Linked DNA regions of Homo sapiens. The protein of the gene in region 1 interacts with the protein of each later gene in a pairwise test. Each region holds a gene or a part of one and is shown in the gene's direction. Other genes may lie near its edges.

The links.
Region 2: the proteins of AGXT (region 1) and FOSB interact in binary tests that used the Homo sapiens proteins (3 or more experiments, as listed by UniProt).
Region 3: the proteins of AGXT (region 1) and PRDM6 interact in binary tests that used the Homo sapiens proteins (3 or more experiments, as listed by UniProt).
Region 4: the proteins of AGXT (region 1) and FNTB interact in binary tests that used the Homo sapiens proteins (3 or more experiments, as listed by UniProt).
Region 5: the proteins of AGXT (region 1) and BATF3 interact in binary tests that used the Homo sapiens proteins (3 or more experiments, as listed by UniProt).
Region 6: the proteins of AGXT (region 1) and RFX6 interact in binary tests that used the Homo sapiens proteins (3 or more experiments, as listed by UniProt).
Region 7: the proteins of AGXT (region 1) and TTC19 interact in binary tests that used the Homo sapiens proteins (3 or more experiments, as listed by UniProt).

Annotation. Positions count from the first base shown.
Region 1 is NC_000002.12:240,875,324-240,878,823, forward strand, and holds part of AGXT (alanine--glyoxylate aminotransferase), read left to right. Parts: intron 1-611; coding exon 612-681; intron 682-2,213; coding exon 2,214-2,309; intron 2,310-2,698; coding exon 2,699-2,827; intron 2,828-3,390; coding exon 3,391-3,498; 3' UTR 3,499-3,500. UniProt on the Homo sapiens protein: Peroxisomal aminotransferase that catalyzes the transamination of glyoxylate to glycine and contributes to the glyoxylate detoxification.
Region 2 is NC_000019.10:45,473,338-45,475,679, forward strand, and holds the end of FOSB (protein FosB), read left to right. Parts: 3' UTR 1-1,842; downstream 1,843-2,342. UniProt on the Homo sapiens protein: Heterodimerizes with proteins of the JUN family to form an AP-1 transcription factor complex, thereby enhancing their DNA binding activity to gene promoters containing an AP-1 consensus sequence 5'-TGA[GC]TCA-3' and enhancing their transcriptional activity.
Region 3 is NC_000005.10:123,192,504-123,194,766, forward strand, and holds the end of PRDM6 (putative histone-lysine N-methyltransferase PRDM6), read left to right. Parts: 3' UTR 1-1,763; downstream 1,764-2,263. UniProt on the Homo sapiens protein: Putative histone methyltransferase that acts as a transcriptional repressor of smooth muscle gene expression.
Region 4 is NC_000014.9:65,028,395-65,031,894, forward strand, and holds part of FNTB (protein farnesyltransferase subunit beta), read left to right. Parts: intron 1-3,500. UniProt on the Homo sapiens protein: Essential subunit of the farnesyltransferase complex. Catalyzes the transfer of a farnesyl moiety from farnesyl diphosphate to a cysteine at the fourth position from the C-terminus of several proteins having the C-terminal sequence Cys-aliphatic-aliphatic-X.
Region 5 is NC_000001.11:212,697,041-212,701,183, reverse strand, and holds the start of BATF3 (basic leucine zipper transcriptional factor ATF-like 3), read left to right. Parts: upstream 1-1,343; 5' UTR 1,344-1,421; coding exon 1,422-1,511; intron 1,512-4,118; coding exon 4,119-4,143. UniProt on the Homo sapiens protein: AP-1 family transcription factor that controls the differentiation of CD8(+) thymic conventional dendritic cells in the immune system.
Region 6 is NC_000006.12:116,875,996-116,880,041, forward strand, and holds the start of RFX6 (DNA-binding protein RFX6), read left to right. Parts: upstream 1-1,246; 5' UTR 1,247-1,280; coding exon 1,281-1,503; intron 1,504-1,800; coding exon 1,801-1,957; intron 1,958-1,967; exon of another isoform or gene 1,968-2,215; coding exon of another isoform or gene 2,216-2,217; intron 2,218-4,046. UniProt on the Homo sapiens protein: Transcription factor required to direct islet cell differentiation during endocrine pancreas development. Specifically required for the differentiation of 4 of the 5 islet cell types and for the production of insulin.
Region 7 is NC_000017.11:16,006,324-16,009,823, forward strand, and holds part of TTC19 (tetratricopeptide repeat protein 19, mitochondrial isoform 1 precursor), read left to right. Parts: intron 1-150; coding exon 151-245; intron 246-2,654; coding exon of another isoform or gene 2,655-2,683; exon of another isoform or gene 2,684-2,741; intron 2,742-3,500. UniProt on the Homo sapiens protein: Required for the preservation of the structural and functional integrity of mitochondrial respiratory complex III by allowing the physiological turnover of the Rieske protein UQCRFS1.

The DNA of each region.
Region 1 (3,500 bases):
CAACTAGAGCCCCAGAATCCGCCTGCATCAGGCAGTCAAATGCCCCACCCTGGGTTCCCCCATTCCTCGACTGGCCCGAGGCTCTGGGCAGGGTCATGGCCCCCACTGCCGCTTCCACAAACACTGTCCCCCCAGAGGTCCCAGCACACCCTCGGGCACTTTGGACCTGGCCCTGCCACATCTCCCCACTCCTGGGCCTCAGCTTACCCCTTCTGAAAAGACGACCTTGGCCATAAACCCAAGGCCCCTTATGTTACACACAGGAACAAGGCGCCAGGAATGGTGCCCTAGCCCAGTGGGCACAGAGGGCCAGTGCCGGCTTCGCAGGCACGCTGGGACTGAGGGGCTCCGCAGGGAGGTGGTGGCACGTGTCTCTGCTCCTGCAGCCACCCACTGCCTCCTGGCTGGGCCCTACACAAGCCATGCTCTCCCTGGCAGACGAAGCTGCCTTCCCGGTCCAAAGTTCTGAACCCGGACAGGACTCCTCTGCGGAGGATACCGGCCTGTGGTCAGAGAGCCTGTGCTGTTGGGGCTGGGGCAGACAGAGCTAATGCCCCATCTGCCCCCAACCCTGCCCATGGTGCTGGACCAAGCCCCCTCGTGTCTTCCAGGTACCATCACACAATCCCCGTCATCAGCCTGTACAGCCTGAGAGAGAGCCTGGCCCTCATTGCGGAACAGGTGCATGGGCTGCACTCCACAGGAGGAGACAGGGCCACTGGCTGGATTGTCGAGGGCGCGGCCTGCAGAGAAGGAACCATCCCTGGTGCACAGAGAAAAGGGAGCCTGCCAGAGAGAGGCCCTCAGTGGGGGTGGGGGAGAGAGGACAGGGCCCCGGGTACACTGGCTGCGGGCAGGGCCAGGGGGATACAGCCCCAGGGACAGATGCAGCAATGGGGCAGGTGTGGATGCTCCCAACCCTTCCATTGCTGTGTGAAGCAGTAAGTGAGGCCCAGTGAGTGGGTGGGCTGGGAGAAGGGGAGGCCGAAGGGGCCAGAGATGTGCCCACAGATAGGTGGGCGTGGATGTAAAGTGAGGGTTGGCAGTTCCTGCAGGCTTGTCCAGCTCCTATGGCAGGGCAAGAGCTGAGCATGAGCACTTGGGTGTGACCAGGGGTTGATTTGGCCACTGCAACATCCACACTCTCAGGACACTGCAACATCCACACTCTCAGGACACAGGCGGCTGAGAGTGGCCTCAGGCCCAGCAGCTCTGCAGGCCACGAGACAGGAAGTCCCACCTACTTTCATCTGGGTCCTGTGTCCCACAGGGCCCATTGCCAGCCACCAGTCCAGAGTCCAGGAAGGATCCCCGGGCTGCAGCCAGCTTCCCATGAGGTTGCAAGGCCGTGCCTGCCACGTTTGTCCTCCTGGGTCCACTCATAAAGCCACTGCCTAGGGCTGGGTTAGTGCCAGGGTGCCCCTGTAAGCTAAATGCCACCCGCACCCGCGGGGGAAGGCGAGGGGTCAGGCGCTCACACAGGGAAAGGCTCTAGGGTCGTAAAGGTGGGTGGGGGGTGTGAGCTGGGCAGAGAAGGAAGAGAACAGGACCAGACAGCAGGGCACAGTCAAGGGCAGAGGCACAGGGACCTGGCAGAGTGCAGATTGCAGGGGCACATGCGCAGAGAAGACGGGCCAGGGCCAGAGTAGAGAGCAGCTGCTGCTCCGGGGACCCACCTGGGGTGGCCATGAGAGCTGGTGGCTGGAGGCCGGGAGGACCCGTGACCAGAGGTAATGGCACTGAGGGGCCCAGGGCTGGAGAGACCACCCCTCACCTGTCCAGAGCTGAGGCAGGAGCAGTGCTGCGGAGGATGCCAGGTCGGGGGAGCTGGCCCTGAGAGGAGAGGGGGCCTGGGAGCCAGCACCCTGAGCCCTGGCCCTGATCCACTCCAGCCCTGTGTAGCCCAACAGCCCTTCCCCTCCTTGCCCAGTCCCCTCCCCCTGCAAGGCACTCTCCACTCTTCTCCCCCAGGGGCCACAGGCAGACCTCCCCTCTGTCTCTCTGAACCCTCCTCTGTCTCTCCCAGACCCAGATGTTTCCTTCTGCCCTGGGGTAGTCCCAGGCCCTGCCCCAGGCAAAGTCAAACTGGGGGCTCCAGGGGCTCCCCTGCACCAAGGCCTGCAGAGTCAGGTTCTTCCTCCCGCACCACAGAGGGCGGGGCTTCCTGCCCACCCCACCCATGTCACTGCCCACCAGCGCCATCTCCCACACAGGGCCTGGAGAACAGCTGGCGCCAGCACCGCGAGGCCGCGGCGTATCTGCATGGGCGCCTGCAGGCACTGGGGCTGCAGCTCTTCGTGAAGGACCCGGTAAGGAGGCCCCTGGCATTGGGCAGCCCTGCACCCATGGGGAAGGATGAGGGGCTCTTGCCCAGCCCCCTCAAGAGGGACACTGGCTCCTGAGAAGGAGGGGGCGGCTGCCCGGTGGTGTGGCCTCGGTGCCAGGGATTAGTCTCGGCAGGAGCCACGAAGTCACAGCTCCCGGCCTCTGATGCGGGATCTCAGGACGGCCTGTGATCTCCCAGTGGGAAGGTGCCCATCCACCGCCTCCTAAGGGGTGGGGTCCCTGCTCTCTCCCGGCCCTTTCTCCCCCGGCTCCTCTGGAACCTGAAGCTGGGGCAGATGGTGCAGGCCAAGAGCTGTCACAAAGGCCCGTACAGGGCCTCTCACCCACGCACTGAGCCAGGCCCCTCCTGCAGGCGCTCCGGCTTCCCACAGTCACCACTGTGGCTGTACCCGCTGGCTATGACTGGAGAGACATCGTCAGCTACGTCATAGACCACTTCGACATTGAGATCATGGGTGGCCTTGGGCCCTCCACGGGGAAGGTGAGAGGGAGCGCCTCGAGGGCCTTTTGCAGAAACCAAACCCGCCACCCCTCCTTGAGCAGGACTGTGCACCAGGTGCAGGGGAGGCCGGGGTCATCCGAAAGCCCAGATTGCAGGAGCGTCCAGAAGGGCCCACTCTCCAAGGGGTATCCAGTAAAGCGTATCCTGTCGCCCCTGCTCCCACCCCAGCCCACTGAGGTCACCAGGTGCAGCCTTTATGATTCCACTCGGAACATCCTTCCTTCCCTCTGACCAGACCCTGGAACCAGGCCGGAAGCCCCACGCCTGGGCCTGGCTGTGTCTCTGAGTGGCAGTGGGGAGGGACCTTCACTGCACCACCCTGTCCTCCCGTGTGGCTGCGGGTGCAGAGGGAGGAGAGCCTGCCCTGGCCTGGGTGCTCAAGGGCCCCCTCTGTGACCTGCACAGGGCTGTCAACTCCCCTCATGGACGCTGGGTGGGTGGTCCTCACTCAGGTGAGCCCATCCTGGCTCTGGCCAGCTGTCGGTCAGGGTCAGGCAGGTCCCAGGCGGGAGGCTGACGTCAGCCCGCCCTGTGCCCCCCAGGTGCTGCGGATCGGCCTGCTGGGCTGCAATGCCACCCGCGAGAATGTGGACCGCGTGACGGAGGCCCTGAGGGCGGCCCTGCAGCACTGCCCCAAGAAGAAGCTGTGACC
Region 2 (2,342 bases), on another chromosome or scaffold:
GGCGGGTGACGCCCACCTTCGGGCAGTCCTGTGTGAGGATTAAGGGACGGGGGTGGGAGGTAGGCTGTGGGGTGGGCTGGAGTCCTCTCCAGAGAGGCTCAACAAGGAAAAATGCCACTCCCTACCCAATGTCTCCCACACCCACCCTTTTTTTGGGGTGCCTAGGTTGGTTTCCCCTGCACTCCCGACCTTAGCTTATTGATCCCACATTTCCATGGTGTGAGATCCTCTTTACTCTGGGCAGAAGTGAGCCCCCCCCTTAAAGGGAATTCGATGCCCCCCTAGAATAATCTCATCCCCCCACCCGACTTCTTTTGAAATGTGAACGTCCTTCCTTGACTGTCTAGCCACTCCCTCCCAGAAAAACTGGCTCTGATTGGAATTTCTGGCCTCCTAAGGCTCCCCACCCCGAAATCAGCCCCCAGCCTTGTTTCTGATGACAGTGTTATCCCAAGACCCTGCCCCCTGCCAGCCGACCCTCCTGGCCTTCCTCGTTGGGCCGCTCTGATTTCAGGCAGCAGGGGCTGCTGTGATGCCGTCCTGCTGGAGTGATTTATACTGTGAAATGAGTTGGCCAGATTGTGGGGTGCAGCTGGGTGGGGCAGCACACCTCTGGGGGGATAATGTCCCCACTCCCGAAAGCCTTTCCTCGGTCTCCCTTCCGTCCATCCCCCTTCTTCCTCCCCTCAACAGTGAGTTAGACTCAAGGGGGTGACAGAACCGAGAAGGGGGTGACAGTCCTCCATCCACGTGGCCTCTCTCTCTCTCCTCAGGACCCTCAGCCCTGGCCTTTTTCTTTAAGGTCCCCCGACCAATCCCCAGCCTAGGACGCCAACTTCTCCCACCCCTTGGCCCCTCACATCCTCTCCAGGAAGGGAGTGAGGGGCTGTGACATTTTTCCGGAGAAGATTTCAGAGCTGAGGCTTTGGTACCCCCAAACCCCCAATATTTTTGGACTGGCAGACTCAAGGGGCTGGAATCTCATGATTCCATGCCCGAGTCCGCCCATCCCTGACCATGGTTTTGGCTCTCCCACCCCGCCGTTCCCTGCGCTTCATCTCATGAGGATTTCTTTATGAGGCAAATTTATATTTTTTAATATCGGGGGGTGGACCACGCCGCCCTCCATCCGTGCTGCATGAAAAACATTCCACGTGCCCCTTGTCGCGCGTCTCCCATCCTGATCCCAGACCCATTCCTTAGCTATTTATCCCTTTCCTGGTTTCCGAAAGGCAATTATATCTATTATGTATAAGTAAATATATTATATATGGATGTGTGTGTGTGCGTGCGCGTGAGTGTGTGAGCGCTTCTGCAGCCTCGGCCTAGGTCACGTTGGCCCTCAAAGCGAGCCGTTGAATTGGAAACTGCTTCTAGAAACTCTGGCTCAGCCTGTCTCGGGCTGACCCTTTTCTGATCGTCTCGGCCCCTCTGATTGTTCCCGATGGTCTCTCTCCCTCTGTCTTTTCTCCTCCGCCTGTGTCCATCTGACCGTTTTCACTTGTCTCCTTTCTGACTGTCCCTGCCAATGCTCCAGCTGTCGTCTGACTCTGGGTTCGTTGGGGACATGAGATTTTATTTTTTGTGAGTGAGACTGAGGGATCGTAGATTTTTACAATCTGTATCTTTGACAATTCTGGGTGCGAGTGTGAGAGTGTGAGCAGGGCTTGCTCCTGCCAACCACAATTCAATGAATCCCCGACCCCCCTACCCCATGCTGTACTTGTGGTTCTCTTTTTGTATTTTGCATCTGACCCCGGGGGGCTGGGACAGATTGGCAATGGGCCGTCCCCTCTCCCCTTGGTTCTGCACTGTTGCCAATAAAAAGCTCTTAAAAACGCATTCGCCAGGCTACAGTGTTTATTTCCTCCTAACACCCATTGCCTGGCTTCCTTTTAGTAAGAGAGGATGAGGTTAGATTGTCGAAGGACTACACACACACAGAGATCATACACCCATGCACACACACACACAGACACACACCTATGCAGGAACTCCTTCTAGTCAATGGGTCTACAGCAGGATAAAAGGAAGGCAGACAGTCAGGAGGACTTCCTGTACTCGCAGGCAGTGCCTCCTACTAGAAAAAGTAAGTGGCTACAGCTGGGCGCAGTGGCTTGCGCCTGTAATCCCAGCATTTTGGGAGGCCAAGATGGGCGGATCACTTGAGGTCAGGAGTTTGAGACCAGCCTTGCCAAGATGGTGAAACCCTGTCTCTACAAAAAATACAAAAATTAGCCTGGTGTGGTGGTGCACACCTGTAATCCCAGGCTACTTGAGAGGTTGAGGCAGGAGAATCACTTTAACTTAGGAGGCAGAGGTTGCAGTGACACAAGATTGCA
Region 3 (2,263 bases), on another chromosome or scaffold:
TGATTTTGTCATGCCCAAATCTCATTGCTGGACAGAATTTCAACTATTCCATTGCTGTCAGGCATTGTTTTTGTTTTTCTAAGCAGGAATCTAAAATTCCACATTGAAAGAAAAAAAAATAACCCTCTCAAGTGTGATATACATTAGGACAAATGGCAACAGGCAGGAAGGGCAGGTTGTGTTGGAGGGTGGCCAGAAGAGAATAAGGTTCGAACACTATCGACAGGTAAAAACACATCCTCAACGGGGCTAAGTGAAATCTCGTTTTCTTTCTTTGTTCTGACTGAATGCTAAGTGAGTTACTTTCCAGGCATCAATGGAGTCATTACGCAGTTGTGTGCATTAAGAATATGGGCTTATGTTGTTAGCCTGTTGGTTTAAAGCAGTGCAGCAGAAAGACTGGAGTCATTATAGGTTTGGTTTGTCAAAGGCACAGATAGTGTAGTTACATGCATGAGGTACTCAAGGAACCAGTTCAAGTTCTGGGGCACAATCTAGATGAAACTGTGAGGTTTGTTCAAAAAGTAAGTGTACAAAATTTCATCATGAACTGGCTTTATTACAACTCTTTACCGTGGTTTATTGAAACCACAATGTATACTACTTTCCTCCAGATTCTGATTCTAATGGGCACATTTGTTTGTTGAAATGATAAATATATTTTCCTTGTCAAACATGGTGGGTCCTGGTTGATATCTCCTGTTTCCTGCCTTGAAAAACATCCTTGTTGGTGCCTTTCTCCCACTTTGGTACATCACTCCCAACTGAAAACAGTCTAGATATAAACTTTAACAAGCTGGAGATCTATTTCTACAGCACAACTCTTTCATGTTTAAAAGCAATTATGCCGTATCAGGTGATTGCCACATGTTGGGGAAAGCAGCCATCTTAGAGCAAAAGTCTGCCAACCCACAGTCCCTGTTGATCCACATGTGGGCATTGTCTAATGTTAACAAAATCAGCACTTGTAGACTTACTTTCTCTGAACAATCTAGTACACTTCTCTAGTTTCTCCCAACCTGGAGAAAATGTATAGCAAAAGCCAGAGGCAAAATTATTCTCCTTAGCAGTTCTAAGTATTTCATGAAAAAGCCTTCCCCCAGTTTAAATGCAGAGGCTAAGGTGATGACTAACGAATTAAGGAAAACTTTGGCTCAGATCAGCAAAATTATTTTGGAAACTTAATGTCCCAAGTTAATTATTTTTTTTATATCAAGGGGAAGACATCCAGTTCTGTAGGATGCTAATAGAAGTGTGATATTTAGATGCTATTAGGACATTGTATACATTTCTTTAATGTGGTTATTTTAAGTTTAGGACTGTAAATGTTCCCTACTGGAATAGAAATATGTCTCTCTCCAACTTTCCACCAAATAAAATGGTTAGAGTGAATGCCCAGTTTCACATCTGCCTTTTGGAGTTTGGAAAGCTTAAACAAGTCAGTTAAGAGAATGAGAAGAATCTCACTGTGGGTGATAAGGAGTGTGTAGTTTGCTGTAAGGGCCACTGATATGACAAGAATGATTATCCCACAGTAAGAATGGGTAAAACTTAATAAAGTTTTCTAACTTTATTAAACTCACATTATTTAATGAAAAAATAACTGCAAAGGACCAATGAGATCATGCATGCTGCTGTATTCTTGTGATGGAATCTACCAGGATTAAGTTGTATTTAAATGAAAAAACAGGTACACATTTAGAGATCATTGACCAAGAAATGTAAATATATTTGATTAATAAAACGTTTTTATGATGACTCGATCTTCCCTTGGATTCTGTCTTTTCCAGTCCCACAGTCATTTTTCAAGCACCATCTGATTCTAGTGTGCAGCTTAGGTAGTAGGCAGTCAACAAACTCTTGTTGGGGAAGTATAAGCTAGAAAATACACCTAGCAAGCAGGAAGGTTGTTAAAATTCAGCCCTGAGGTTTATTCGGATGCATTTGAGATTACTGTTTTCCTTATTCATGTGCTCACATGCTCATTTGCCCAACCAAGTCAGGTGCACAGCTTCTTAAGGAAACTGTGCGCAGAGACCCAGCCACAAATCTGTGGCAGGCTGGACTTGATATTTGACCTCTAACCCCATAAGCTTTGGAGCACAGCAGAAAGCACTTGCCCGGAGAGTGGCCTGGGGCTATGACTCTTCTGAATGTATGTGATTGGGGGCTCTCAGAAAGAAAGCCAAAGTCAGCTGTTTGTCTCTTGTTCTGTTGGAAAATAAAATTTCACTTAGAAAAAATATGTGAGCATGTAGGAATA
Region 4 (3,500 bases), on another chromosome or scaffold:
TCATTGAATAAGCCATTTCTCTAAGACAGTGGCTTATTGAGATTTTATGCCATTTTCTTATTATTTAGTTGAGAAATACATTTTGTGAGGTTTCTATAGCAAAGCTGTCTTACTGCCTATGTGTAAATGGGTTTGCTTCTACACAAGTTGATTAATAGTCTGGCTTAAGCATCTGGTTTAACCATTGGTTTGAAAGTATAGGGGAGGAAAAAACCACGAACATTGTGGAGCATAAAATACATTACAGATAATAGGTAATCAGGCTGCAAAGGCCTTTAGTTCAAGATGTTCTTCTATCTCTAACTTGTCTAATCCAACCAAAAAAATTAGATTAGGATCTGTGTATACCAGTGAAACCAGTAGAACGACTGAGGTAAATCAGTATGTGTTGATTCTTCTTAAGGAAAATGTTAAAAGAGTTTTTTTCCCTCGTGTTCACTACATTTTCGTTCCTGTTCTGTTGCTATTCCCCCAAAATATGCACAGTCTTGAAACGCAGCTTTTAAAAACCTACTAAGATTATTAGGCAAAAGCAAACAAATCATAGCAAGATCCTTTTGGTATTTTATCATATACCTTTTGCAGCTGTGATTATTTGCTATCTTATTCATTCCAGCACTTTTTTTTTCCCTATGCTCTTTATTTATATGTTCTAGATAAATGCTAGGAAACTTCTCCAGTAAGGCAGCTTGGTTCCCCTGCCAAGCACTGTAGCCATATTCTTCCCTGACCTTTGCTCTTTGGGTGATGCTCTGCCATTCGTGCCCGTGCTTTCTATTTACATAAAGGATTAAAGATATGAATGATAGAGAAAAGCTAGCAGATTGCATCCATTTTCCTTGCTTTGCCTGGTTTCTAGTACCCCGATTCCATCATTTTTCACTTGGCATTTCTTTCATTGTCCTTTGCCTGGAAGCATCAGCCAGTCCTCAGGAGTGCTTGTTTGGGTGGATTTGACTTGGAGAAAAGCAGCAGTGATGGGAGAGTTTGACATCTGGAGACTAGCTCGCTGCCCTTCTGGGATAGACAGCAGTCTCTGGATGATCTTTCTGCTCTGTTACACTGCTGATAGTTTCAGAGATGAGCCTACTCAAGGGTCTGTAGTTCCAGTGTATTGTAAAAAATCAAATCACAGTGAACTCATAGCAAGCACTATTTTTTCTCAGTTCTTAAGAAAGGAGACCTCCTTTCTAGGTTATATAATCTAGATCATTCTGTGAGGATAAGGTGGAGGCAGGGATCTAGCATTTGCAGAAGTTTGGTGAGAAAGCATGTGTTGCTCAAGAAAGGACAAGTTCAGTGTTGAAGTGTAGATGGCCTGGTGGGCAGGGGAGCAGTGGAGCTGGAGGGACAGGCTGGGAACAGGCTACAGAGGCCCTGAAATCTCCTATGGAGTCTGGAGTTTAGTGATGTGATCTGATTTGTATTTTCTTAGAAGTTTCCCAATTGCAGTGATGGACTGTAGTGTTCCAATAAAAGCCCTCTGGTTTCAGGGCTGGAGGGAGAGAGAGCAGGAAGACTGATCCAGGTTGAAGAAGGCTTGGATTTGGGTGATGGCAGCAAGGATGGAAAGTTAGTGGACAAATTCAAATTTGAGAGCTGCGATGACTGGGTGGAGGGAAAGGGGGAGAAATACATGAAAAGGTTGTATTACGTTTCCTCCCCATCTCAGCGTGAGACCTGGGACTCCTGTCTTCTGTCATCACTTCTTAGTCCTCACACTTGTGAGAGGCAAACTGTATTATAGGTCGCCTCCTACCTCACAAGTCACAATAGGATTCAAGAGCAAATGCATCTGAGCCTCTTTAAGAGGCCTACAATTGCAAGGAAATTAGACAGATCTTCAAAATTAGCTGCTGGTAGATGATCACATTTGGCATTGGCACTTGTGACTCTTGTGTGCTCCCAATGCCTGCTGGTGGAACTAAACTTCCACTGTGCCTTTGGCTGCTAAAAATGCTGGTAGGATCATAATGCATGCAGCTTCTGCAGAGACTTCTTTGGAATACCTCAGTAAGTCTGACTTCATGTTATATCTATACTGAGTAAGATGGAAACCAGGGCCGAGCGGCAGTGGCTCATGTCTGTAATCTCAACACTTTGAGAGACTGAGATGAGAGAATCACTTGAGGCCAGGAGTTCAAGACCAACCTGGGTAACACAGCAAGACCCTGTCTCTACAAAAAATTTTTAAAAAATTAGCCAGGTGTGGTGGCATGCATCTGTAGCCTCAGCTGCTTAGGAGGCTGAGGCAAGATCAGTTTGAGCCCAGGAGTTTGAGGTTGCAGTGAGCCATGATAGCGCCACTGCACTGCAGCCTGGGCAACAAAGTGAGATCCTATCTTAAAAAAAAAAAAGAAGATGGAAACTAGGCCCTTCTTTTATGTTTCTTAGGAGCCCTTAGGAATATACTTTTTGTTTGTTTTGTTTTGAGATGGAGTTTCTTTCTGTTGCCCAGGCAGGAGCGCAGTGGTGGGATCTTGGCTCACTGCAACCTCTGTCTCTGGGGTTCAAACGATTCTCCTGCCTCGGTCTCCCAAGTAGCTGGGATTACAGGCGTGTGCCACCATGCCCAGCTAATTTTTGTATTTTTAGTAGAGACGAGGTCTCACCATGTTGGCCAGGCTAGTCTCGAACTCCTGACCTCAAATAATCCACCTGCCTTAGCCTCCCAAAGTGCTGGGATTACAGGCATGAGCTACCATGCCTGGCCAGGAGAAGGATTTTTGAGCAGAATTCAAACCAATGATTTTTGTCTTCCCTGTGCCGGGTATTTGAAAAAACCATAGAGGGGAAGGAAAGGCAGTCTGTGTGTGTATACCATGACAGAGGGAGAAGCTGAAATAAAATGTGCCCCGAGAAGAATTAGGGCTGGGAGGATGGAACAGCAAGAATGATCCTAAATCAAGTATAATAATTTTTTGTGTTTGTTTTTTTTTTTGAGACAGAGTCTCACTCTGTTGCCCAAGCTGGAATGCAGTGGCATGATCTTGGCTCACTGCAACCCCCGCCTCCCGGGTTCAAGTGGTTCTCCTGCCTCAGCCTCCCAAGTAGTTGGGACTACGGGCACACGCCACCATGCCCAGCTAATTTTTGTGTTTTTAGTGGAGACGGGGTTTCGCAATATTGGTCAGGTTGGTCTTGAACTCCTGGCCTCGTGATCCACCTGCCTCAGCCTCCCAAAGTGCTGGGATTACAGGCATGAGCAACTGTGCCCAGCCTAATAATGCTTTTTTAAAAAATAGCCCGGGCGCGGTGGCTTATGCCTGTAATCCCAGCACTTTGGGAGGCCAAGGCAGGTGGATTGCTTGAGGTCAGGAGTTTGAAACCAGCCTAGCCAACATGGCGAAACCCCATCTCCACTAAAAATAGAAAAATAAGCCAGGCATGGTGGCATGCGCCTGTAATCCCAGCTACTTGGGAGGCTGATACAGGAGAATTGCTTGAACCCAGGAGGCGGAGGTTGCAGTGAGCTGAGATCATACCACTGCACTCTAGCC
Region 5 (4,143 bases), on another chromosome or scaffold:
CTCAGTTGGCCGAAGCTTCTGATCACACAGACAAGAATCTCCGCTCGCTTTCCCGCTGGCCTCCAGGCAGCCAAGTTCACTCAAGCTCTCTCAAAGCTTTTGCAAGAGTGGGTCTTAAATCCTGGCGGGGGGCACGTGCACTCATTTAAGACTTAAAAAGGAATCGGAAATGACTGTCCCCATGCCCACTGCTGCCCACAAACCTGAAGACCCAAGCGACCACACTTGGTAGGCACTTCTGCCCTTCTGGTCTGGTTCCCACCCGCCCATCCCGAATCGCGGTTATCTTTCCCGGTGCTCACAGCATGCAGACCACAGCCTGTGGCCGCTAGTGTTTCCTTCGCTAGGACCACGGGTAATTGTCTTGGCTTCGCATCTTTTGACTGGCAGGCAGGTGGACAGGGACTTGCCCTACCTCAACCCGGTCCCCAGCTTGGCACGAGCAGATAAATCTTGAAAAAGAAAAATGATCTGGGCCGTTTAACCGTGGCATGGCGGGTCCAGATCCCCAAACCTGTCACTAGTGACGTCCCACGTGGCAGATTCGCTCTCAGGGAAGCCCGTCACCGTTTTTGTCCGGGACATCCTCCCCATGCCCACCCTCCGCTCCGGGAATTCACCCTCGGGGCCGCCCCGCCTCGTTCCCTCCCACAGCCCGGCGGACCCGAGACGGGAAGGGCAGGCACTCCCTGCAGAGTCCCTGGGGCGCCCGTGGCTCGGGGTGCGCGGTGGGACTCGGTGAAGCCGGCGTCTTCACCCCAGAGCCGCGGCTTCGGGGCCGCTGGAGGAGCGAGAGTGGCGCCCGGATGACTGATCGCCGCGGAGAAAGTCCCCCGGGACTGTGACCCCCGCGCCGGGGGGCGGACGCAGGGCGTGGCTGAGGCGCAGGAAGATGCCGCGATGGGACCGGGAAAAAACACCGACCCCAAAACACCCACTGTGTTTCTCAACCTGAGTTCCCCGGCAGCCGCCGAAGGACCCCAAAGGCTGCATGGCGCCCCCCTGGTCCCCACCCCCCCGGGCGTCGCCTCGCGTGGGTGGGCTTCGCGTTCCCTCCGGGGTTTCAGAGCCACCACGTGACTTCCACGAAGCGCGGGGCGCCGGCGGAAAGCCGCGGCAGGGGTGGGATTTGGGACCCCGAGGTGCGGAGAGAGGGCGGGCAGAGGAGGAAACGAGGCGGGGGTGGGAGAAGGAGGGCGGGGCAGACGTGGGACGGGAAGGACGGCTGCCGGGACTGGCGCGCGGGGACACTGGGCCGACGCGTGGAGTAGCGGGGAGAGCGGGAAGCCTGAGGGGGCGGGGCCGGCGCGAGGCCGTGGGTGCGGCACGAGGATGCCGGCGGCGGGACAGCGCCCGTAGGCAGCCCCACGGGCAGGGCGCGCGGGCGGGGCGGGGCGGGCCGGGCCAGAGGAGCGCCCGGCATGTCGCAAGGGCTCCCGGCCGCCGGCAGCGTCCTGCAGAGGAGCGTCGCGGCGCCCGGGAACCAGCCGCAGCCGCAGCCGCAGCAGCAGGTAGAGGGCGAGAGGCTCAGGGAGGGCCGTGGGGTGCGGGGACCGGCGCGCCGCGGGGGGCGAGGAGGTGGGTGCTGGAGTTCCGTGGTGGTGACTGCGGAGGTGCAGAGGTGGCGGGTGCGGCCGGAGACAAGCAGAGGTAGGGGCGTAGGGATGTTGGGGAATGGGGGCGATCCAGGGACCCTGTCGTGCGCACAGTGTCCGCGGCTCCTGGAATGGCTCCTGAGCCAGCTCCTGCGCCCTCTGGGGGAAGAAGCCCGAGGGCGCCGACGCCTGGCTGGGCCGGGCATGGCCGGTGCTCCCCGGCACGTGGGCTCCGCACTGCCCTGAGGGCCGCCCCATCCTGGCGCAGCCAGCGACTGCCACCCCACCACCCGCGCCTGTAGCCCCTCCAGGATTCCCCCGGGTGGGGGGGGTGCTGCCGCGGGAATGGAGAACGCCGGACTAGTCAGCCTGGGCGGAGGGAACCCACAAAGGGCCGACTCCGCCCCCAGCTGGTGGAAACCCTTTGCCCCTTCCCAGTTCGCTGTCCCCTAGCAACGTTTACAGCGGCGCAGTCAGGAAGGAGACCAGGTTGGCCACAGGGACGGCCGTCTGGAAACTTTGCCTGGGTCTTGGCCACCTGCCTTACGACGAAGACTGGGTCTTTTCATCCTTACTCCCCACCTTCCCAATTCAGCGCCCGGCCCATGTCATCAGGTGTCGCTGGAGTGTCACAGAGATCTGAGTTTGGGCCTGGGCTTTGCCACACACAGGCTGAGCAGCCTTGAGCAATTTGTTTAACCTCTCGGACCGTCCATTTCCCCATCTGTAAAATGAATATAGTAACATCAACCTCTCAGGATTTTTGAGACTGAATCAGATATGGTTAATAACATAATACTATCTCTAACTTTCGCTCACCTCTTTCTGTCTTGATTAAATGTTTCTGCTGGGTTGGCAGGTGTGATCATGGTGATGAGTCCAGTTTAGAGTCAGCTCCCCGAGGGCAGTATGCAGGCTGCTTTCTTGTGCTAGTGACTTTTTGATTACAGAGAGCAAAGAGGCATGAGAAGCACTATGCAGAATACATTTTTTTTTAAAGTAGCAACTTCAACAAAGGCAGGTAACTTCTTGAGGGCATACTGTATGCTGGGAGCTTTAGGACAAAATCTCATTTCATCGCATCCCAATCCTAAGCATTAGGCTGTTAGCACCAAGTCTGCAGAGTTCACTGACCCTTTGTTTAGGGCTTGTATCCCCAGTGTCTAGAACAGTGTCTGGCACATGGTAGGTGCTCAGTTAATACATATTGAAAGAATGAATGAATTATGCTTACAATAAATGAGAAAACTGAAAATTTAGAGAATTTAAACCATTTACACAAGACCATGTTGACACTAAGAGACAAAACTAGGATCTGTGTGATTCTAAAGCTAAAGAGCTGTCTTCTAACCACATGTTCCCCTGTAATGTTCTGGTTTTGTTTATCAAGACTTCTTTGCCTCTCTAGAAGACTGTATTATCATACTTTGTTCCCTTAAGCTTCTATTTGCTATGTATGTTATTTATTCCTCTCCTTTTTATGCCTTTATATTCTTGCATATCTGAAACTTCTTACCTGCAGTAACTTGGGAAGATGTGTGTCTTATGTGGAATACAAGATGAGATCAAATGATAACTGAAAATATCCTTTTTTGTGTTATTAATATTTGCATTCCGTGAATATTAATAACTGAGTAGTTTTCCTTGTTTGTACCTCTTGGCTCTTAAACTCTGTAAGTGTGGTATTTTTCCCGCTTGGTGGTGTCTTCTCATGGGGTTCTAGAAAGCAAATACTGCTCTCCTTTTTCATGTTTTCTATAGCTGATTGAAGTGTTTTTACCATGGTCAGTGCATTTTTCCGCCTGCCTGTTTCATGATCACTATTGAGGGATTTGACTGAATTTGGTTAAATCTTACATATAGCTAACAGCTTTCAAGACACATAAAAAATTTGCTGACTTCTGAAACAAAATGTCAGCCAAGCATTGTTCAAATGAGTACACTGTCAGTGGGGTTTAAGATCATTTGGTGTGTTGGTAGAGTTATGTGGCTGCAATTAGTTGTAAGTGTAATCATGATTTGCATGCAGTATCAAAAGTACCTTTCATGTGTGGTGGTATAAGGACTGGCAAACAGCAAGTTCCAGATAGCAGATCTCTCCACCGCCCCCCACCCCCACCCAGCTTTCCAGTCTCAGATGGACGACATTGACACCACAGCTCTTCCAGGCACACGCCCTGTGGGCTAGAGGTTTATGAACGTTGATTTGGAGACCAACAGACCTGAGTTCCACTTCCCACTCACCCACTTAGTGGCTGTAATACCTGGAGCAAGGTCCTTAACCTCTCTGAGTTTCTTATTCCTCATCTTTTAAACGGCGGTCACACCACACACTTCACACACTCACATGGTGAGTGCTCCTGGGCAAGGGGCTGTTGTGAGCCCATTGGTATAGCAACTAGTGGTGCTGTCTACTGCAAAGCAAATGATGAAGCTCAGTGAACAACGCTGAGTGATGAGACAGGGCAGAAAAGGGTAAGGCGAGGGGCCACGACATCACACCCACCCAGTGTTTTTCCCCAGAGCCCTGAGGATGATGACAGGAAGG
Region 6 (4,046 bases), on another chromosome or scaffold:
GTGGTACTAAAAATGGGGAGATTCAAATCCACTCATAATTTTAGCTGCTTTTGCTGTATTACTTAGACTGTATCGCTCCTTCCCATAATTCACCCTTCAGCCACCCACCACCTTGGATCCCATTTTGTTTGTTCTATGTTAAATTTCAATGTAATGTAGTTTAATATTGTCAAAGTCGAAGGCTGATTTCTCTCTCTAATGCTGCAAGAGAAGATGACATGCTGTAGGTTGTGATGAGGCAATGTGATCCAAAGCAGAATCCTTGCTTTTGTTGGAGAGCACTGGACATATAAAGACACTGGGCGTATTTGTCAAAAGAACAGAAGGTGGAAGGAAAGGAAGATGATCTGGCAGTCAGGTAACACCAATCCCAAGTCTCCACTGACCGCTCCCGTCTAAAGAGAGCACAGATTATAGTTTGCCCCCATGAGATTGCCATTTTGGGTTGGAAGATGGTCGCAATTTCATTTTTCACTTAAGCAAACGTCCGTTGCCGTACTGCTAGGTATGAGATGAGTAATCGTCAGGGACGCGTTTAAATTACAAAATAATGGTAAATGGGAGAGAAAGAATCTTTTCTCGGGGTTGAGGCCAGATCCTCCAGGGCTGGGAGACCCAGGAGTGCGGGCCACTGTGCACCCTCGAGCAAAGCAGTGTGTGACGAGATGGGATCTTCCCTCAAATGCTGAGAAGAGCCCTCGCCAATCCCTCGGAAGGTTCCCAGAATAAAAAGCCCGGTCCCTGCTGTGCAAAGACTGAGCGGTACTCCGGTGTACTTTTTCCCTGTCCCAGGCGTGCAGAGTCCACGCCGCGCGGCCAGGTGCCCCAATAGTGTACCTGAAAGTAGGGATGGGGCCAGTTACAGCTGCACTTTCCCTGCAGAAGACAGTGAGCCTTCCCGGGATCTTTCTGGGAGCTCTGAGTGTGAAAACGGTCCTCCGGCCAGCGCAGGTTGAGAGAACGGGAAGGAGGGGGAAGCTGTGGGCGCCCAGGGCGTGACAGGCGCAGGTGAGAAAGTGAGTTTCGCGGGAGCATCTGCCGGGACCGCAGACAGGTGGAGAAACGCAGTCCCACCGCGGCCCACCGCGGCTCCCGGGCGGCCTGGGCTGTACCTGTGCGCGGCGTCCTTTCTGCGCTGAGCCAGGGCACCCCGGAGCCTGCGGCCTCCTTCCCCGCCCCTGCGGCCCCGGGTCCCAGCCCCGCCCCGCCCCGCCCCGGGCTGGGGCTCCGCTGGGGAACCGGCCGAGCGGCGCGCGCGGAGGTGTCCGGCGGCCAGGAGGATGGCCAAGGTCCCGGAGCTGGAAGACACCTTCCTGCAGGCGCAGCCTGCGCCCCAACTGTCCCCGGGGATCCAGGAAGACTGCTGTGTGCAGCTCCTGGGCAAGGGCTTGCTAGTCTATCCGGAAGAAACAGTGTACCTGGCGGCCGAAGGGCAGCCCGGGGGCGAGCAGGGCGGCGGGGAGAAAGGCGAAGACCCGGAGCTGCCGGGGGCAGTGAAATCAGGTGAGTGCTCTGCCGCATCCGGAGCTGGGAAGGGGACGGGGACGTATTCTAAGAAGGGCACCCAATAATAATAATGCATCCCGAACAAACATAAGGCAGATATAGAATGTTCTGTCCAAATCTTTGTATTTCCTCAGTAAAATGTCAAGTAGAGACCTGACATTTTGCATAGCCCCCCTTTCCTCCCCTCCGCCCCCACCCCAGTAGGCTACTCCTTTGAAGTTAAGGTACACTTAAAGGCGACTTAGTTGATTTTATATTCTATTTTTCTTTATCATCCCTTCAACTGGCAATCAGAAATGCACTTAAACAATGGTAACTTTTCCTCTGAAGAAGAGGACGCCGACAACCACGACAGCAAAACCAAAGCAGCGGATCAATACCTGTCTCAGAAGAAAACCATCACGCAGATTGTGAAGGATAAAAAGAAGCAGACACAGCTCACGCTGCAGTGGTGAGACTCGCCCGCAGGGTACACTGAAGCACCTGTTGACGTTTTAACAGCCAGCGTCTTCAGGATCTTTGATTTTCACAATTTACTTCTTCCTCAAACTTTTTGGGAAAGTTTAAAAAACCAATTAGAATTTAACCCAGAATTTTTTTCACTGAATTTTTAGTATAGAGACTTATACAAGTACTGGTGAAGGATTTGCAATACAAATGAAAACCACATTACGTTGTTCCTTATTGACTAAAACCATATTTTCTTCAAATGTAAGCATTAATGAACGTTTTTATGACTTACTGGCTTAATATGCAATCAGTTCAGTCCTTACATATTTGTTGTTTGATAGTTTTTGAGATTATAAAATATGATTCTTAAAAACAACTTAAAATGAGGAAGGATCTTAACACTGCCTTTATTCAAAAGAGGGCAAATTAAAAATAGTGTATACTCCATAAGATGAACTGTGTTTGAGGTAGAAGACATAGAAAAAATCGGTTAAGATATCTATACTAACTTAAATAGAAGTTCAACTATTTTTATACCATCTATCATATATGATTTATAATAATAAAATATTACAAATTGGATTTTGTGGAAAATCTTTTAAAACCAAGAATTTATCAGTAGGATTTCCACATAGAGTGAACATTTTGTAATATCTATCTAAAAGAAAGACGGCTCTAAAGTAAAAGCATTATATTAAACTTTCCTACGTAGTGGGAAGAAATAGGAGCATAAATTTCCTCACAAATTCCAAGTAAAAAACAAACTAATAAAAAGGACTATATATTTACTGATTAGTTACATAACCTAATTTTGTGTAAAGTATGATCTAAGGAGCCTTAGAAAAATACAAGATAAAGAACTAGTAAATTTTATTTTTATTATTTATTTAAATATTAAATTACAATTTACATATAGTAGTTTTTTGTGATTATATGCTTGAACCCTTTCAAAATATTTGAAATATAAGCCAAATATTCATCTAAAGTTGGAGTTTAACTATTGAAGTTGATGTCGTGGTTACTAGTTAAGAATATACTAGAGCAGTTAAGTAATTGAGTTAAATATCTGGGATATTTAGGATACAACTATTTGCAGCAGGATAACTGGGGCAAAAGTGTTTTGATTTCAGATATATTATTGAGCTGTTTCGAATGATTACTCCATTTTTTCCATTTAAATTGAGTGTGTGGAAATATATGTTTCTTTTATGAATAAATGTATACATAAATATATATAAGTTAAGATCAAAGAAAAAACTTGTACCCCAAATGAACATCATACTTATGTCTAGGATGATTTAATATTTTGAAGACAAAGACAATGCCGACTACAACAGTATCAAAATAGCAAGATGAAATGTGAACATTGTGTACATGTAATTAAAATATAATTTTTAAATAGATAAACTAGAACTGAAAATCAAAGTGAAAAAGCTGGCTGATTAATTCCAGTTTTCACTATCAACTAGTATGTCAACTGATTTTATGTACATATATTGATTTCATATTTTGAAACACTAGATCTTAGTTTTTGGTCTTTTTTTGTTCTTCATTAAAAAAATGAGTGATATTTTACCTGTTCAGGGAATACTTTCTTTAGCCTTTATCTTGTACACATTAGGATATTTTAAATCAAATCTTTGAAGGGTTTCATCCAATTTTAATCTGCAGACTCTATATTGCATCGTTTCTGCATTATAATAAATATTATCTTACTATACATAAAATTGGTATAAGTAAATTTTAGTCAAAATCACCTACTGAACTGTTAGGAAAACTGGGATTGGAATCTAAAAGTTTAATTTCTACATTGCTGTTTAGAAAGTTGTAACACAAATATGTATTTATTACATTTATATAAGTTATGCTTAGTTACAAATTAAATGGAATTACTTCAAATTTTCAAAGGTTATATAGTTATTTTTATAATATAAAGTTGAAGGTATATATGTTATGTTTGGAGATATCTATAGAGAATTACATTATCTTTTAAGTGTATAGGATGTTTTAGATAATTATAGTACTGATGACAGTAGTAAAAAGTATAGGAATAGAAATATATCAGTGTCATTTCAGACTTAAGTAAAATG
Region 7 (3,500 bases), on another chromosome or scaffold:
CGCTTGAACCCCGGAGGTGGAGGTTGCTCTGAGCCGAGGTCACGCCATTGCACTCCAGCCTGGGCAACAAGAGCGAAACTCCATCTCAACAGAAGGAAGAAAAAAAAAAGAAGAAAAGGTAAATGGCTGATTATTGATTTTGCTTTACAGACAGGAATTTGCTGTTGCTGGCTATGAATTCTGCATTTCAACTCTAGAGGAAAAAATTGAAAGAGAAAAGGAATTAGCAGAAGACATTATGTCAGGTAGGAAACCCATTATCTGGGCATTGCCTTTTCTCCACAAAAGGCTTTACTTTACACTTTTGAGAAATGGAAAGAGATCTAAATTGGGAAGAGGGAAAGTTACCTATTTTGCAAAATAAGTGTCTGTCTTTAAGGTATCAGCAGAAGTTTTGGAATAAGATGTTTTATTTAAAATATTTGACTGCTGTTTTGGTGGTGGTTTTTTTTTTAACCCCCTTGGTAACATGGTCATAATTTATTTGTTAACTTTTAGTTACATATAACTTAAGGAAAATTGGGGAGCAGAAGGAGAAGGTGTTTCTCGTATCTCTTAGTTCAGCTACCAATCAAAATGCTTATTACGTTTTAGCCCTAGATATACAGCAAATTAAGAAAGAAGAGAAAAAAAGCTCATGTTTTTACAATCCATCCTCACTCATTCTGGAGGCTAGGAATAGAACTGGATGAGCAGGAAGCTCTCTAGCTCTCCACCATTTTGGGTTTCTTAATTTGGGTTGAAGTATTGAGAATTTTCAGATTTGACATTTATTCAATACCTACTCTATACCAAGAGCTACCGAGATGGTAGGGATACAGCAGTCAACTCTTCTGTACCTAGTGGTCTTCTAACTCTCTCTTGAACATAGAGTAGTCCCCCGTTATCCATGGGGAATATGTTCCAAGACCCCCAGCAGATGCCTGAAACGACTTCTAATACACTGTGTTTTTTTCTTATATATATGTACCTATGATAAAGTTTAATTTATAAGTTAGGCACAGTAAGAGATTAACAACAATAACTTTTAATAGAACAATTATAACTATATACTGTTAACAGTGTCACAGACAGGAGATTCATTCTTATTGTAGATCTTATCAACCTCAGCATACAGTTTTTTGTTTTTTGTTTTTTGTTTTCTTACTAAGTTGAGAACTTTCACCTTTTCATTAAAAGGAAGCACTTTATGACTTCTCTTTGTCATATTCAAATTGCCAGTATCACCACTCTCACACTTTGGGGCCATTATGTAAAATATGGATTGCTTGAGCACAAGTACTGCAACATTGTGGGTTGATCTGATAACTGAGACTGCTGCTAAGTGACTGAGGCCAGCTGCCGTATACAACTTGGGTACACTGGACAAAGATGATTCATGTCCTGGGCAGGATGGAGTGTGACAGTGTAAGATTTCTTCATGCCACCCAGAATGGCATGCAATTTAAAAACTTACGGATTATTTCTTGAATTTTTCATTTAATATTTTTCGGACTCTGGTTGACTGCAGATAACTGAAACCCCAGAAAATGAAACTGTGGAGTAGGAGGGATCACTGTACACCAATTTTTTTGTTTTCATCACTCCACTGAAGCTACCTTTATCAAAGTCACCAAATCCAATGGTTACTTCTCAATCCTTAACTTACTCATCAGCAGCTTTAACTTAGGGGATCACTGTCTCCTACTGAAAATACTTTCACTTGGCTTCTGGGATGCCTCACTGGTCTCTCTAGTGAGGTGAATAGACTTCCCTACCTCTTAATGTTGGCACGCCTTAGGGCTGTTTTCAGCCCTATTCTCTTTTCTCTCTGCCCCAACACCTAGGAGATATCTTTTAGTTCCATAGTTTTAAATATTAGATTTATACCTTCAGCCCCAACTTGCCCCCAAATGGCAGACTTATAATTATGATTGCCCACCCGACATCTTGACTTGAAGTCTAATGGTCATCTCATACTTAACATGTCCAAAATAGGTCTCAGTTTTGCCGCTCACAACTTGTTTCGTCACCAGTCAGCCCCAGATTTGTAAATGGCACACTACTCATTTAGTTGCTTTGGCCAAGAACCTAAGAATTGTCCATGATTTCTTCCTCATTCCTCATATCTAATCCATCAGCAAGTTATACTGGATCAGCCATCAAAATATATCCATACTGACCATGTCTCATCCCATTACCCTACTGCTTTGGTCCAGGCCATCACTGTTTCAAGACCTCAGTACCTTTGTATCACCTTTAGAATAAATTTAGAATCCCTGCATGGACCTGTAAGGCGCTTATGACCTGGGCCCACCCACCTCTTCCATGCCATCTGCTGCTCTCCCCTTGCTCGTTCCAGTCTCACCACACTGGTCTTATTCTGGCACATTCCAAGCTTAGTGCCACCTCAAGGCCTCTTTGCTTGATATTCCCCCTACCTAGACTGTTCTCTCTTACCTTTCTCTGGCCAACTCCCGTACTTCACTCAGGTCTCTGCTCAAATAGCACTTCCTCAGAGTGCTCCCTTCACTAAAACTATCATCTCTTCCCACCTTACTATTGCTCTACTCCTCTTTCCTTTACTTTTCTTCATCACACTTAAAAGTAGAGGTGTGTGTGTTGTGTGCTTGTGTTTCTCCACTAAAAGTATGTTTTTGTTTAAAAATTTTTAGTCTTTGTCTTCCATATCAAAGAAGGATAGAGACTTCATCCATTATACTCAGTGCTAAATCCTCGGTGCCTAGAACAGTGCCTGGCACATAATAGAGGCTCAATAATTACTGAATGAAAGAACAAAAGACCCAAGAAAGACCAGCAAATAAATCCAGTTTCAGTGCAGTGTGGAAGTGCTTTGAGGAAATCCACAAGAGGTGTAAAAACAAGTCTAGCTGTCAAGTAAGTCACTTCTGAACTATTTACACCTTTGCTGTCTTTCATTTATAGTGTTGACTATGGTTTCTTAGGAGTGTAAAGCTATATTTTCTGATTCAAAAAATAATACCAGTAAACACTGAAGAAAGTTTAGAAAAGCACTAAGTAAAAATCATCTGTAATCATACTATTAAGAAAGAGCTACTGTTTTATTTATTACTACGGCTTTTCGGGTTACATTTTAAGAAATAAATTTGGGATGATACTGTATATCCTACTTTGTAACCTGAGTTTTAACAATTTAGTAACATATTATGAAAACACTTTTTTTTTCCAGGCAAAGGAATTCTTGTTAGATAGAGCAAGCTAATTTCTATTATAAATATTATTTTTACATTTTACTAGTTGCACAGTATAGAAAATGTGTTACATGATTCTTCATCTTATTTTTTCTAGAAAAGGAATTCCTACCTATTCAGTTTTGCACAAAGCAAATCCATTATCAAATTTACGTGCTTTTTATTGACACAACTATCTCTATTCTAGGATAACATTACTTAATTACATAAAATTACATTACTTAATTACATAAAACCTTGCTCTAGGATAATTATTTTGTTACCTATGTTGTAGACATATATGTACTT